Homo sapiens: one gene and its partner. The protein of the gene in region 1 purifies or fractionates together with the protein of each later gene. This does not show direct contact. Each region holds a gene or a part of one and is shown on either strand. Other genes may lie near its edges.

Region 1 (8,407 bases):
ACTGTTGCAATAAGAGAGAGCTAATTTCATCTTGCCCTTGTCTGTCTGGCAACTGCTAACCATCCTTTAACCTCCAGCTCAGCCATCCCCTTACTGTCATGGCAATGTTTCACGTCTATTTACATCTGATATGTCCAGAAAGTAAGTCAAGCTGGTGAAGGTGCCTACTGTGTGACTGGATCTCCACAGCTAGTTTAGCACATTTACATAGCGCTGAGTAAATGATTGTGGGATCACTGAAGGATGACATACAACAGGTGAAATAGTTAAGAGAGAACTGAATGAGTTAGCTAGGGTATTCGGGCTCAGAGTTCAAGTAAAAGGCTTGGATATGCTTCAGTTTATGCTTATCTTGAAGAATAAATTATTTTTTCTTGCAAATAATTTATACCTCTTAATGAAAAAGAAAATGGGTTTGCAAAGAACCTACTTTGTGGTTCTAATATAGAAATTGCCAGTATCACCAAAGATTTCTACAGTTCACAGTATTAGGCATATGAATACTAGGCCAACAGTAATCATTATAAATTGGTCAACACAAATGAAATAGCAATGTGGGAGCCATGTGGGATTTGCTCACGTTTAAAGAATACTGATGTAAGTAAAGTAACAAAGTCTTCCTTGGGACCTTGACCTAATATGGCATACCCGTTAATCTATACTGACAATCTATTTGAGGCAGACCACGTCTCTTTTTTTTTTTTTATACTTTAAGTTTTAGGGTACATGTGCACAACGTGCAGGTTAGTTACACATGTATACATGTGCCATGTTGGTGTGCTGCACCCAGTAACTCATCATTTAGCATTAGGTATATCTCCTAATGCTATCCCTCCCCCCTCCCCCAACCCCACAACAGGCCCCGGTGTGTGATGTTCCCCTTCCTATGTCCATGTGTTCTCACTGTTCAATTCCCACCTATGAGTGAGAACATGCGGTGTTTGGTTTTTTGTCCTTGCAACAGAACCATCATTCTCAACATCTGTTTGAAATGAATTAGCTGAAAGCAAGTCCCTCCTGTGGAGTCTAATAACACGTTATTAACTCCTTTGAGGCACCTTTGAAGTACAAATGTGTCATCACACGTATAACAGTATAACATCATTTCTGTTTACAATAAACACAGAGAAAATAAAAGCCACCATTTCAGAAGAAGTAAATCCAAACCATATGAACTAAAGACTGTACTTTCAGGGACCCCTGTCACTCATGTGGTCATGTCACATTTCAGCAGCCAGACCTGGCTCCCCACCTCTGCCTTCAATCTCTGTAGGTTGTTGCATAGTCCCTGGCCTTGACAAAGTCATTCAAAATTGCTGGGCCTCAGTTTTCCCAATGACAGGGTTGGTCCAGATACAGCTGTGAAAATAAATACAATTTAAAAGCTGTTGGAACCCCCAAAAACACTTTAAGCCTTGAGAGAGATATGGCTGTGATCTGAGTCATGCAGCATGTTTTGCAATTCTACTTCTTAGATTATAGCTTAACTCTCTTCCTCATTGTTTTGTTCTGTAAGTGACTAGGAGACCAGAGACCAGACCTCTACCTTCCAATCACAAATCTTTGTTAGAGATTAACTGCCTTCTTTATTGTCCTGACCTATCTCCTGACCTAACTCAGACTAGATGGTGCTCTGAACAGGGACCCCATGACAGTTACATCTGCAGTAACTGCAATGGAATGTTAAATGTACCTTTCTCAAAAGAGGAGGACCATCTGAACTAATCAGGTCATTGTGACTATGTATTAAGCCTTACATAGAAAGATGCTGAAATTCTGCTAAAATTCCCCAGGCTTTGTCTACATAAGCAATCTCACACGTCTACGCTTTGTAACACTGACTTCCATTGTTAGGAATCTGTGCTTCTTGGGTGGGCTTGTCCTCAACCTTTGCACTTAAAGTCTCTTTAATCTAGATTCTGACCCTTTTCATTATTTTAGGTTGGCATAGAGTACCTGAGAGGCCCTGTAGGCGGCTAGGGCTGCACTGTCTTCCCAGTGCTTTCATCTATTTCCTCTATTGAAGTTCTGGTGGACAAACACAAAAAACAAAAAGCAAGATGATTTTAAAGGTGCTTGATGACTCGATTGTTCTTAGGATGAAAAAAATAGCTTAAGAATTATCTTAAATATTTTCCTGGGACAAAACTAGGAAAAAAGTTAAAACTATCCATAAAGGCGGGTTTTCTCCCACCTCCCTTTTTAATACCCAGGAATGTAGTGGCTAAAATATTCCCAGCAATTCATATACAACTCCAGGGGGCACCATTCATAACAAAGACAATGTCAATGGTGTTTCCTGGAGCATGCCACTCAGTGGCTTTAAGGAGCCAATAAGTGGGCCTGCCCTGGCATCTTATCTTTACGACTTACTAGTTATATGACCCTTGGCAAGCTATTTGATCTCTCTGATTCTGTTTCCTTCTCTATAAAATGGAGTTGATAAAGCATATTTCCAAAGTCTGCTATAAAAATTAAATTAGATAACATATGTATAGAATCTGGTGTTGGGCAGCATACTAACACCAGTATTAGTTCTTTAAAATCATAAAACTATCCTATTGCATGGTATAAGAAACAATGGTATCTAGGACTTGTGGCCCATACTATAGGAAGAGACCAAAAGATACTGTGAAACTGGCAACAGATTTCATATCCTAAAGATGTGGAAGATACCCAAAAGTTAAAGAGGTCAGAATGTAGTGGCCCCAGAAGCACCTAATTTTGAAGTCTCAGAAGTGTGATAGCTGGCAGAAAAGAAGACTAATCGGCATACTAATTTATCAGGGTGTGTTGGCACAACTATTATTAAGCATAAGCAACTGTTTAAGACATGCTGCATTCACTAAGGTTATATGTGCTGCCAACAAATTACTACATGCTTAATTTAAACCTTTTTGTGCCTTCCTTAGTAATCCAGGACTTGTCAATATTTAATTGCGCTAAATCTTTGATTCTTTAGATAAGAAGCAATTAACCTACACAATAAAACTATAATTTAGGAATTACAGACTTTCAAAGTGATGGAACTGAAAGAGATTTTATATAGCATCTAGTCTAACCTCTACATGTGACACCTGGGAAAACTGAAGTCTAGAGCAGCTGAGAGACACACCTACAGTTACACAGGGCAAAGGCAATTCTGGCATTTGGTTTTATTAACTTATTCTAATTTTTTCTTACTACAGGAAACCAATATTCGGCTTGCCTAAATACACATACCAACAATTTAACACTGGACATATGTGTTCCCATCTCAACTCTGCATAATTTGGGGTTCACAAGGCAATGAAAGAAAGCTGAAGGGCTGGCTCAATGATGGACAGAAGCAGTGTGGTGGGGCTGTGTGGGAAGGTCTGAGGATATTCAGGAAGGCAAAGGAAGAACAAATTAGAGATCTATCAGTCTGGGATTTGAGTAGTGGCAATTAGGGTCTATTAAGGAACCAAATATAGAATTATTCTCTATGTCCAATACGTAGCACAGTGACTAGCATGTAGTAGGTTCTTAGTTCTCATTTATTGTATGATTGGATAATGAACTGTAATTGAATGAAGGAAAGAAAAAGCCTGTTCCTAGAGAAGAAATGAGACCTTTAGGGGAAACAGAGCAGGGGGACTGCCTAGTGCAGTCTGTTAAGGGAGGAAGAGGAAGAGTCAGCAAAGCTATCCCTAACCTTAGAATGAAGGAGGTAGCTCGTTTCCCTTGGAAGGACAGTGAGTGTGTGGCCCTTTTGCTTCCATCCACATTTCCATTCTGAGGAAGTGCAGTAGTTTCTATGGCACTTGGTCTGTTTCTGGCCACACTGCCCAGGACGGAACATGAAGAAGTGCAATGCTTGAGGGGAGTCTTTCTCCAAGAGCAACAGAAATTTCAAATCCATAATGTCACATTATTTTGAGAAGAGACTCTGTGCTTACATGCTAGCCATGCAAGCTACTGACCATATGGACATGGATGAGAAAAATGCTTCATAGCAGGAATTGAAGATTAAGAAACAAATGTGATTCTAGGCTATCAGAGCAAACTCCACCTAATGAAGAATGAGGGAAACCTGGGATTTCCTGGCCAACTTTCCATTCACTGAAAATGTGGCCCTCTGTGGTCCTAAGCCTGGTGTGCTTCAACCTTCTGCCAAGTCCGTTAAGGCTGGACTTTCAAAGCAGGAGTCATTTTAAGAGCACTGGTGGCGCAGACATGATACAGAGCTATATCTTATTATATTTTCCAAATAGGTCAGTGTTTGAAATTCCCTTTCCTTTAAACATCTATGTCTAATATTTTTCACTTTTGTACCATAGGATGTGACCCCTTGAAAAAATATACACCATTCATCACCTCTTGTATTTTCCTGGGATTAAACAGAGAAACTATAATAAAATAAGCTGCATAAATACCTAAGAAAGACCTTCCAAGGTTCTTATGATGTAAGCAACTTCCTACTTAAAAGGAATGCCAATACCTCAGTGGCTAATACCAAAGAATTGGATAATAACTTCTCTATACAACTTCTAGTAACTAATGGCAAAATGACAGTATGTGTGTCAGTTGCTAGGACAGAGTAATGGATTCTGCTGTATGTTCATATGAAACATATATACAGCCCAAGGAGAAGATGTGATGTATTTAACGTGATCTTCATTTAACATCTGATTAAGGCAAAGCTGGTGCATTTTTAAAAACAGTCTTTCAAAACCAAGAGACAGGTCAGTGAAAAGACCAATGATATAAACACTCTTCCCCAACTCACAGAGTTGTCAAGGCTTTTACATTTTTAGCACAGTATCAATTCTCTAAAAAGAAATGCCACCTAAGAAATGTGCTAAGCACCCTCTAAACATTTCTCATTATGTTGCCGATGCTGGCACTCACCCCTTTACAGTGGCTTACTGTACTCATCCTAACTCAGCTCTGTATGCCATTCAAGGAATAAACACGAGTTGCTTTTGAAAGAAAGGGGAAGCATCTGTTGGAATTTTTATATTAATATTTGTAAAACATCTTGAGAAAAAATAGAAAAAGGCAACCCAGAAAATGGTGTTCTGCAATGAAATTATAGAAAAGGTAGTAAAGAAACCAAAATAAAAGGTTTTTCTAATAAGGGAGCAGTTTTGTTCTCATCATTCAAATAATCTTAGCTAAGTGCAGATAAGAACTAGAAGGCTAATTCTAAAAAAGACCAGCTTTTGGACAAGAGTGAAAACATACCTTTGTGTCTAAATTTACCATACAATAAACTCCCTGGAATGGTTCTTATGTTGTCTAGCTCTGAGCATATTGATTCTTCTCCTGTTTTTGTCTTTAATTATGCTGCTGAACTCCTAACTTCTTAAGTAAAAGTGAGTCTAAAGAAACAGGATGACTAAAGTCACACAAATGTCCACTCACCTCCCATAATTTTGGATTGGCAGTTAATAAACTCTGGCTTCCTGTCCGTGAGGTACCTCTGGCAGGTATGGTGGAGGATCTGGAAGAAGGTGCATTTTTCTGACGCTGTGCTGGCTACCCACTGGTCAAAAGCATTTTCAAACAACAAATCAAACTCTGCCGAATCCTGGAAAAGACAATGAAATAACTACTAATCTCAATCTATAAAAACTGCTGTTTCTAGATTACTCCTGTCAAAAGATTTATAAGGGCTAAAACAAAGACTTTGATCGCAATCATAAGGCTCATCTTTATCCAAGTGTATGGAGAGTCTACATTTCTCTGTTTATGAAGCAAACCCCAAATCTTACAGTATTGATACATGTTCCTAGGAAACTAGTATCACACAAATTGAGATAGCCTAACTAAACACTGACAAATGTCAGAATTGAGACCATGTATTATCTTCCCAATTTCCTGGAAAAGGGATTCCTTTAGGTTCTCAGCAACGACCTATATTAATCTGGCCCCTAAACTTTGGTAGGAAGATTCCCTCTTGTTATTTTAGTCTATAGTAACAATTTATATTTTATTATTCTTCATTATTAGCATTTTGTGAGGTGTGCATGTGAGCAACGGGAATGTACTTTGCATAGATAACTATGCCATAAAATGTTTCTCCTATTAAAAGCAAGGGAATCACAATGCATACTGAAAGATACCATTCATTTACTTGATTTTTGGTAAATACACCTTGTCATTAGTGCCAGTAGGAGATAAATGAGGTTTTGGTAAACATGTTTTTTTTTTTCCATATTGATAACCATCGATATGATTATCTGCACTCTGAACTTCGTACTTTGCTGATCAATGTTACCGGAGGTCACATTTTTTCAATATGCATTCTGTTAGATTCCTCTATTAAACATGATGAAAAGATTTATAATTTCCCATAAGAAAGGACTCTGTATCCGAAAGTTTTAATCACATAATTGAAATAGAGAAATAGCCTTCTTAAGAATGATTCAAACCACCACTACCACTACCAAGGTCAATCAGAGAGTCATCTTGTGAAAAGAATGCCTTTGCTCAGCATTGGACAATTCACTCACCCCATTAGGATCGATACCATTAACCTGGCGAAGCTGCTCGAGCATCCACTGTGATCTCCGAACAAATGATGTGGAGCCTTCAAACTGTTTGACCTTTGTGATGGACGCCTGTGTGGGTTTCTTGTTTGTCACTGCCAAGAAAAGATCACTCAGATTAGTGCACCTGCAAGTTGGTGGTTTGTTTCCACATTCAGTGCTGTTTCTACAGGACACCTACTGTGTATATGCACAATAACAGAGAGAAGGCAGAGGGGGAAAGGAGGGAATATGAATAAATATGTGTGCCTTTGGTCAGGGGTGAACGTAAAGGAAATAGATGTTACAATCTCCACTCTGAAGCAGTTTACAATATAATTATAATTGTAAGGGCTGCTTCATTTATGTGTTTATCCATTCAAACTGAAAATGACTTAAGTGAATAACACCAAGCACCTTCAATGGAGGCTATAAGTGCACAATTACAGCTTGCAGGAAAAGAAGCATATAGTACTGACAGGCATCAGGTAAGGTTCACTGGGAAAGGCTGAATTTGAAAGGAAATGAAGGTAATTGGCTCCCCTAGAGAACTGCAAGGTATATTTCTAGTTTTATAGTCCAGTGTAAACATCTTAGGCTTCAGTGATGAGGAGTAATCCCTAACTCAAAAAATCCCCAAACTATTTGGCTCTCTAATATTGTTCAGTTTGTATCTAGTTTGCATCTAATTATGATTGAATCTGGTGTTCTGGGCACACCTCCACACCTGTAGGAAAAGGACAATTTCTTCTCTCAGCCTCAGTGAGTTCTTCCCCTAAGCCTTTCTGTGCTAAAGATGGACAGCATCACCTCTCAGACTGAAGCCAAGCATCAGGCACCAGGAGAGGCACTCTGAATATTTCTACATCTGCCTACTTTGTGACATGGAGACTCAAGGGTAGGAAGTAATTAATTGTCTTTAAAGGGATTTCCTAAAAGCTTCTCCTGAACCCTGGCTATAGGAATTAGCAAATTAAATAGAAAGGAACTACAGAAAGTAGAAATCATTATTGGCTATATTGAAGATGATCCTAATTACTGACTTGCTGAAGACTATGCATCTGTGGCATATTCTTTGTTTCGAATCACCCCACAGATTCCACACTTTCGAATAACTATGTAGATGCTCAACAGATGGCAAAAAGAATTCTGAAGGGATGAAGTACAGAAAGCACCTACTCCAATCACAGTTGGTGAGCAGGGAGACTCTACAGTTCACGCATTCCATAGCTTATTGCAGTTTCATTGTCGGGGGCCATTAAAGCAGGAGAGCAGAGACAAAGGAAAGGTGGCCACTGTCCTTAGATCTAGTGAGAACCCTACTTTCCCAGCACTGAAAACCACCTTTATGGCCTGAGTACTATCTACTCTCTCTGCTTCCAACCAAAATTTAGTGAAGATTTGTTTTTAAGTTCAAATAATGTTTTGGTTTATCACCCATTATTTCAGTTATATTTGCTAAAAACTTCTGAATATTTCATACCAATTACATTTACTTTTATGATTAAGAAGTCATCATCCCCTTAACACCCACAATCAGATGAAATTTTATAGTCTTCTATTCACAAATAGGAACAACCATTCCCTCTAATTGAATTCAGGCAGTATTACCAGTCTGCCCAGGACTCTGTCTATCCATTTAATTCGATTCATTTATTTTTTGTGTCTCCTATGACACAAATGGGAGACCTAATAGGTTTCTCTGATGGCTGTGACCTGCTCTTACGTTTTAATGTTAAAGAAAACAATACACCTGGAATACAGGCAGGTCTTAAAATGTGCTTAAAAGATTAAAAAAGGCTTTTCAATAACAGGAAAACATGGGTTCCTGTATTAGACACACACCCCTAAATGCACAAAGAGAATTTCCTCCTGTGTTTATGTAAATCATACAACATTTAAGCCTGGGAAAC
Region 2 (4,751 bases), about 43 Mb from region 1:
AAGCCAAAGTAAAAACAAGAGTCCATTTTATAGTAGAAAATACCTATTTTTAGGAAGCCCCTTGCACCTCATCCTCTTGGCCATGAATTTAAGTTAAAACACTGTTGTGCTATAGTAGATTAAAAGAAACCTTTTAAGATAATGAAATAAACCATCCCTGTTCAACTAACATAACAGGCATAATTGTCAGGCGTTCTGGAAAAGGAAAAGGCTTGGTGTTGGGTGGGGGAGGTTTTCATCCTGCTTGTTGGCAAAATGTATGCCACCTCCAGTATGACTAGGAACCTTCCAGATGCCTGCCTGGAAATGAATCAAGTATGAAGGCAGAGGAAATCTGCCACTTGCACTAGCCAAACTGCATTCCCACTTTTGAACTCTAATGTGTTATCTGTATCTGTTAGAGCACCACACCATATGCCCTGAAATGTAGTTATTACTGCAAACTTCATTCTCACCCCTGCAGGCCTGAGCTCTGGAGGCAGGTTCCACATCTAACAACATCTTTTTGTCTCCCAGCAGACTGACCCAGTGTCTTGTACTTGATCAAGAGAAAATTCAGCCATATGTTAATTATTTTATCTGGACTTCAGTTACCTTCTGTTAAGGTTTGAGAACTTGTGTCAAAGTTCTCGGTAGTGTTCCTTTGGCCTGGAGCAAGTGGAAGGGAAGCTTAAACCAGAAGAACCTATCCAGACCTGCTACTATGCTCACCCCTCTAAATGCCTCACTTCTCTATAGAATTTAACTTTTTAGTTGGTTATTCTGGATGAAGGGTGATCTGAACAAGCTAGTATTCAGGAATACAAGTATCTAAGAATATTTAGGGTGGCCATAAAGTCTGGAAACACAGGCAAATGTACCTAATGGTTTATTGATATTACACTATAGTACATGATGTGCTGAATGCCATCATGTCCGTTCAGCATCTTCCCTTATTAGCAATGCATAGTTGAGTGTACAGTGCCAAACTGCAACCAACAGGTGTATTACTGTAGCATTTCCATCATTTCCTGCACATGGACCTGTGTTCCTGATTTGTCTCTGATTTCCACTGACTAAACCTGCACCTTTAGCATATCCCAGAAGTGGTCATCAAAGTTTGCACTATTAGAAATATATACATGACTTATGTTTCCAGACTATTGCCACCCTATAAATTAAGCAAACTGCTTTATGTATCTAGTTGACAGCATTATAACAGTGCAGTGGCACAATCATGGCTCACTGCAGCCTCAACCTCCCAAGTAGTTGGGACACCTGGCTAATTATTTTTTGTAGAAACGGGGTCACACTATGTTGCCCACGCTGGTCTTGAACCCCTGGGGTCAAGTAATCCTCTTGCCTTGGCCTCCCAGAGTACTGGGATTATAGGTATGAACCACTGTGCCTAGCCCCATGAGTGTCTTTTGGAGTAAAATATTGTAGCATAGGAACAAAGAGACAAGCCATGCCATATATAAGTGCTAGAGGTTATTAACCCCTGCTCTAAGTGGTGTTTTTAGGAAGCAAAGCAGAGAATTGAACCCCCAAGTTCTCTGGCCAATAACCTAAGGACCACTGGCAACATCTAAGATTGCAGATCTGAGAATTAGACCAGTACTGCCTGCCTTTTTGTACTGCCTAAGGTTCTGGCAGGCTGTGGCGCTAAGGAGACCATTTCTCAATGTGAGTTTCTATCCCAGCTAGTCAAGGGTTCTCTATAGCCCTGAACCTTTCAATCTGGGGTCTCTATCTATACCCTAGTTCCATCAGATGGTTACTGAAGCAGTATGATTTGGTAGTTCTTTAAATTTTGGAATGAAAGGTCATTTGAAGTAGCTTTAAAACCAGAAGCTTTCTGACAGAAATGGAAACTGTTTGCAAACAAGTATGAGTTTTGGAAAAGTAGCCAGTCTTGATAACGTAGAATTCATCTTAGTACTCTTTCCATCAGCCATTCTCATCTAACTGTATCCCCCTTATTAGAAATCCTTTCAGGCTCTAGTACAAGACCTACCCTACATAAAGGACCCAAGATATTGTCCAGTTTGCAGATTTCTTCAAGAGATCAGCTTTAGCTCCAAATTCACAACTCCCAATGAACCAATCTCTTAGAGTGCAAATTACAGCCTTGCACTCTTATCTTATCTTGCCTTCTTATCTTAATCTGCCTTTAGATAACTCAAAGAACTGCATCAGTTTGACAATTTATTCTTGTATTTAATTGTTTAAATATACAATTTTTTACTCATTATTACCTTAGTGTAATTTGGTAAGAGCCATGTCCAAGCATGACTCTAAAGGACTATATCCTTTTTATTAGCATGGCCATATAATTTTTAGCTACAAAAGTTTAAGCAAAAACAAACTCTGCAATGATGTGGAATAGCAGAAAAGATCCTTTGCAGGCAAGAGACTCTAGCATATTTACCTATGTAGTTAACAGGCTGCAGACCTGGTTGCTACATACCTGTATTGTGTATTTCCTCAGCAATATACATGCCTTCTCGATAGGTTAGTCCCCCGACAACAGGAGTTCCTGTGGCTGGAGCCAGTGTAGGGTCAAATGCATCAATATCAAAACTCAAATGGATTGGTCTTTGTCTCCTAAAAAGGAAGAGGATAAAATAATACTTAAAATAATACTTAACTGGTTGTCCTTGGACACTCATCCTTCTTATGGTTGCAACTCCTTGATTTTGTTGCTATTAGTCCTAGTACTTTGTTAATAAAGCTGTTAATACATTTCCAGGCTTCCTATTCTTGGAAGTTACTGAGATTGGCAATATTAACTTCCTACATACCACTTCATGATACTGCCATTTGTTCTGCATACCTCAGACAGACTAACTCCAATGTATATTTCTGCCTTACACTGGGTATTAGAACCTCTTATACTAATAACTGTCAATAGAGAGATTTCTTCACTTCTAGATGAGATTGGGCTCTCATCTAGAGACAATTTAATTAGACAATTTAAATTAGTCTAATTTAAATTGGCTTGATGTAAGTTATGGTTGCTCTTATTCTCTGAACGTAACAGCAGCTGAAGTGAACTCTAATTTTAGGTCTGCAGTTTTAACATCTTCCATTTCTAACTTCATTATAGCCCCAGTGTCCAAAGGCTGAAGCTAACAACTAAGTTTCTTAACAGCTTATGAAATGACATACTACCAGATAACAATTCTGACATTAATCACCCAGAAGTAAAGACTTGGTATTGGGAAAATGCTCTTAAAATTACCATTTGATTAGTATTCATCTGCCATCTTTCTACACTGCCAAGATTTGCTTAATATAAAACTCAGATGAAACAATCGTGAGGCTGGGAAGAATGGGACAGTTGAAACAATAAATGCTTGTCATCTCAGAAGATAAGCATTAAAGATGGAGATAAAGAAAAATTCATGAGACAGAAGATCTAGGCAATGATTTAGAGGAAACCTCCTCCCAAAAACCCCAGAGGAAGAATATGACCTGTGTTTCAAATTTTGCCTTTCTGAACTATTTAAAATTATGTGTATGTTTTTGCTTTGTATTTTAAAAGTAAAGCTGCTGTCCTCAAGAAACAGGCTAAAAGTGTGTTGCCCATTGGGGGTTTGCCCTGACATCAGTTATAGTTACTTACTTGCCAATCAGCAGATCAAATGTTCGTTCCATGACCTTCTGGATACCAAGTCGATCAATATCTCTCATGGAAAAATACTGGATATCATAGTTCTTTAAAATAAAACTGTGATGAGATATAAAGGGAGGAGTCCTTAGTTTAAAGAGCATTTTTAACAAATATGTATTTGGGGGAGAGGGTGGGTTTGTTGTAGTGACCTGCAATAGACCAAGTTAAGCATCAGCCTTTCAAATAGAACATAATTGGCTAGGACAGGCCCTAAACTTCAGCCAAATGCATCAACTTACTGTTCAGGAGGGTCCACGTCTCTCAGACCAATATACACAATACTTGCAGAAGAGATACAAGGTTTGATCCAGGAAAATCCTGGGAGTTGTGGTACCTATGAAAGGGAGAAATGGACAGGATTAATCAAGAATTCTTGTTCTCACCAAGATCATTATCATGTGCGTCCGTGGGTATGCAATCTGCTTTCTTCTGCCACCCACAGGGTAAGTTTAGAGCAACACAGGACACACTTGATCTGGGAAGGAGAAGTGACACAAGGTGGAAATGTTTCAGAAGGGCAGCTGAGGAACACAGTATTGCTTTCTCAAGACGAATAAAATCTCTAAGGTTGTCTTGGTTTCTCATTAACTTACCTAGTAGCAGGAATACTGCTGATTAGCCCTTTTCTATCCCATTGCACATTACTGACTTGTTTACAGATTGGTTCTTGAAGCATAACCTGGTTGCCATCTCAAGTTGCCAACAGCCGACACAGGACTTCCGCCCAATGAATAATCTTTGTAGTGTCCTGGTTTGACTTGGTCCCTCACTGAGGGGAGGGATATACAGATTCTAGTCTGTGCCTAACATGGACTCCCATATATTCTGAACTGCTCAGGAAAATATTACCCAGAGGTCATGGTTTTATTTGTCTTCTAGATCAGTGTGTCTGAGAGTATGGCCTGGGAGCCTCTAACCAAGAAGTCCTCAGGCTGTGGGTATATCAGTCGCTATTGTTACTACCCCCTCCTTGCTTTCTTACAAAGAACAGAGACTATGTCTAGTCTTTATACCCCTAGCATCTGGCAGACTGCCTGGTCCATAATAGTGATGAACAAATGAAGGAGTGGTAATCCACACTCAACCCACCCTTCAC

What was found. The genes of interacting proteins can lie anywhere in the genome.
Region 2: the proteins of STXBP6 (region 1) and VTI1B purify together in Homo sapiens (affinity purification with mass spectrometry; 2 studies listed by BioGRID and IntAct, with this or other methods). This does not show direct contact.

What each region holds. Positions count from the first base shown.
Region 1 is NC_000014.9:24,850,548-24,858,954, forward strand, and holds part of STXBP6 (syntaxin-binding protein 6), read right to left. Parts: intron 6,611-8,407; coding exon 6,480-6,610; intron 5,555-6,479; coding exon 5,389-5,554; intron 1-5,388. UniProt on the Homo sapiens protein: Forms non-fusogenic complexes with SNAP25 and STX1A and may thereby modulate the formation of functional SNARE complexes and exocytosis.
Region 2 is NC_000014.9:67,645,882-67,650,632, reverse strand, and holds the end of VTI1B (vesicle transport through interaction with t-SNAREs homolog 1B), read left to right. Parts: 3' UTR 1-2,449; coding exon of another isoform or gene 2,450-2,586; 3' UTR 2,587-3,548; downstream 3,549-4,751. Other genes in the region: ARG2 (arginase-2, mitochondrial precursor), read right to left, coding at 2,450-2,586, 3,608-3,712, 3,895-3,989. UniProt on the Homo sapiens protein: V-SNARE that mediates vesicle transport pathways through interactions with t-SNAREs on the target membrane. These interactions are proposed to mediate aspects of the specificity of vesicle trafficking and to promote fusion of the lipid bilayers.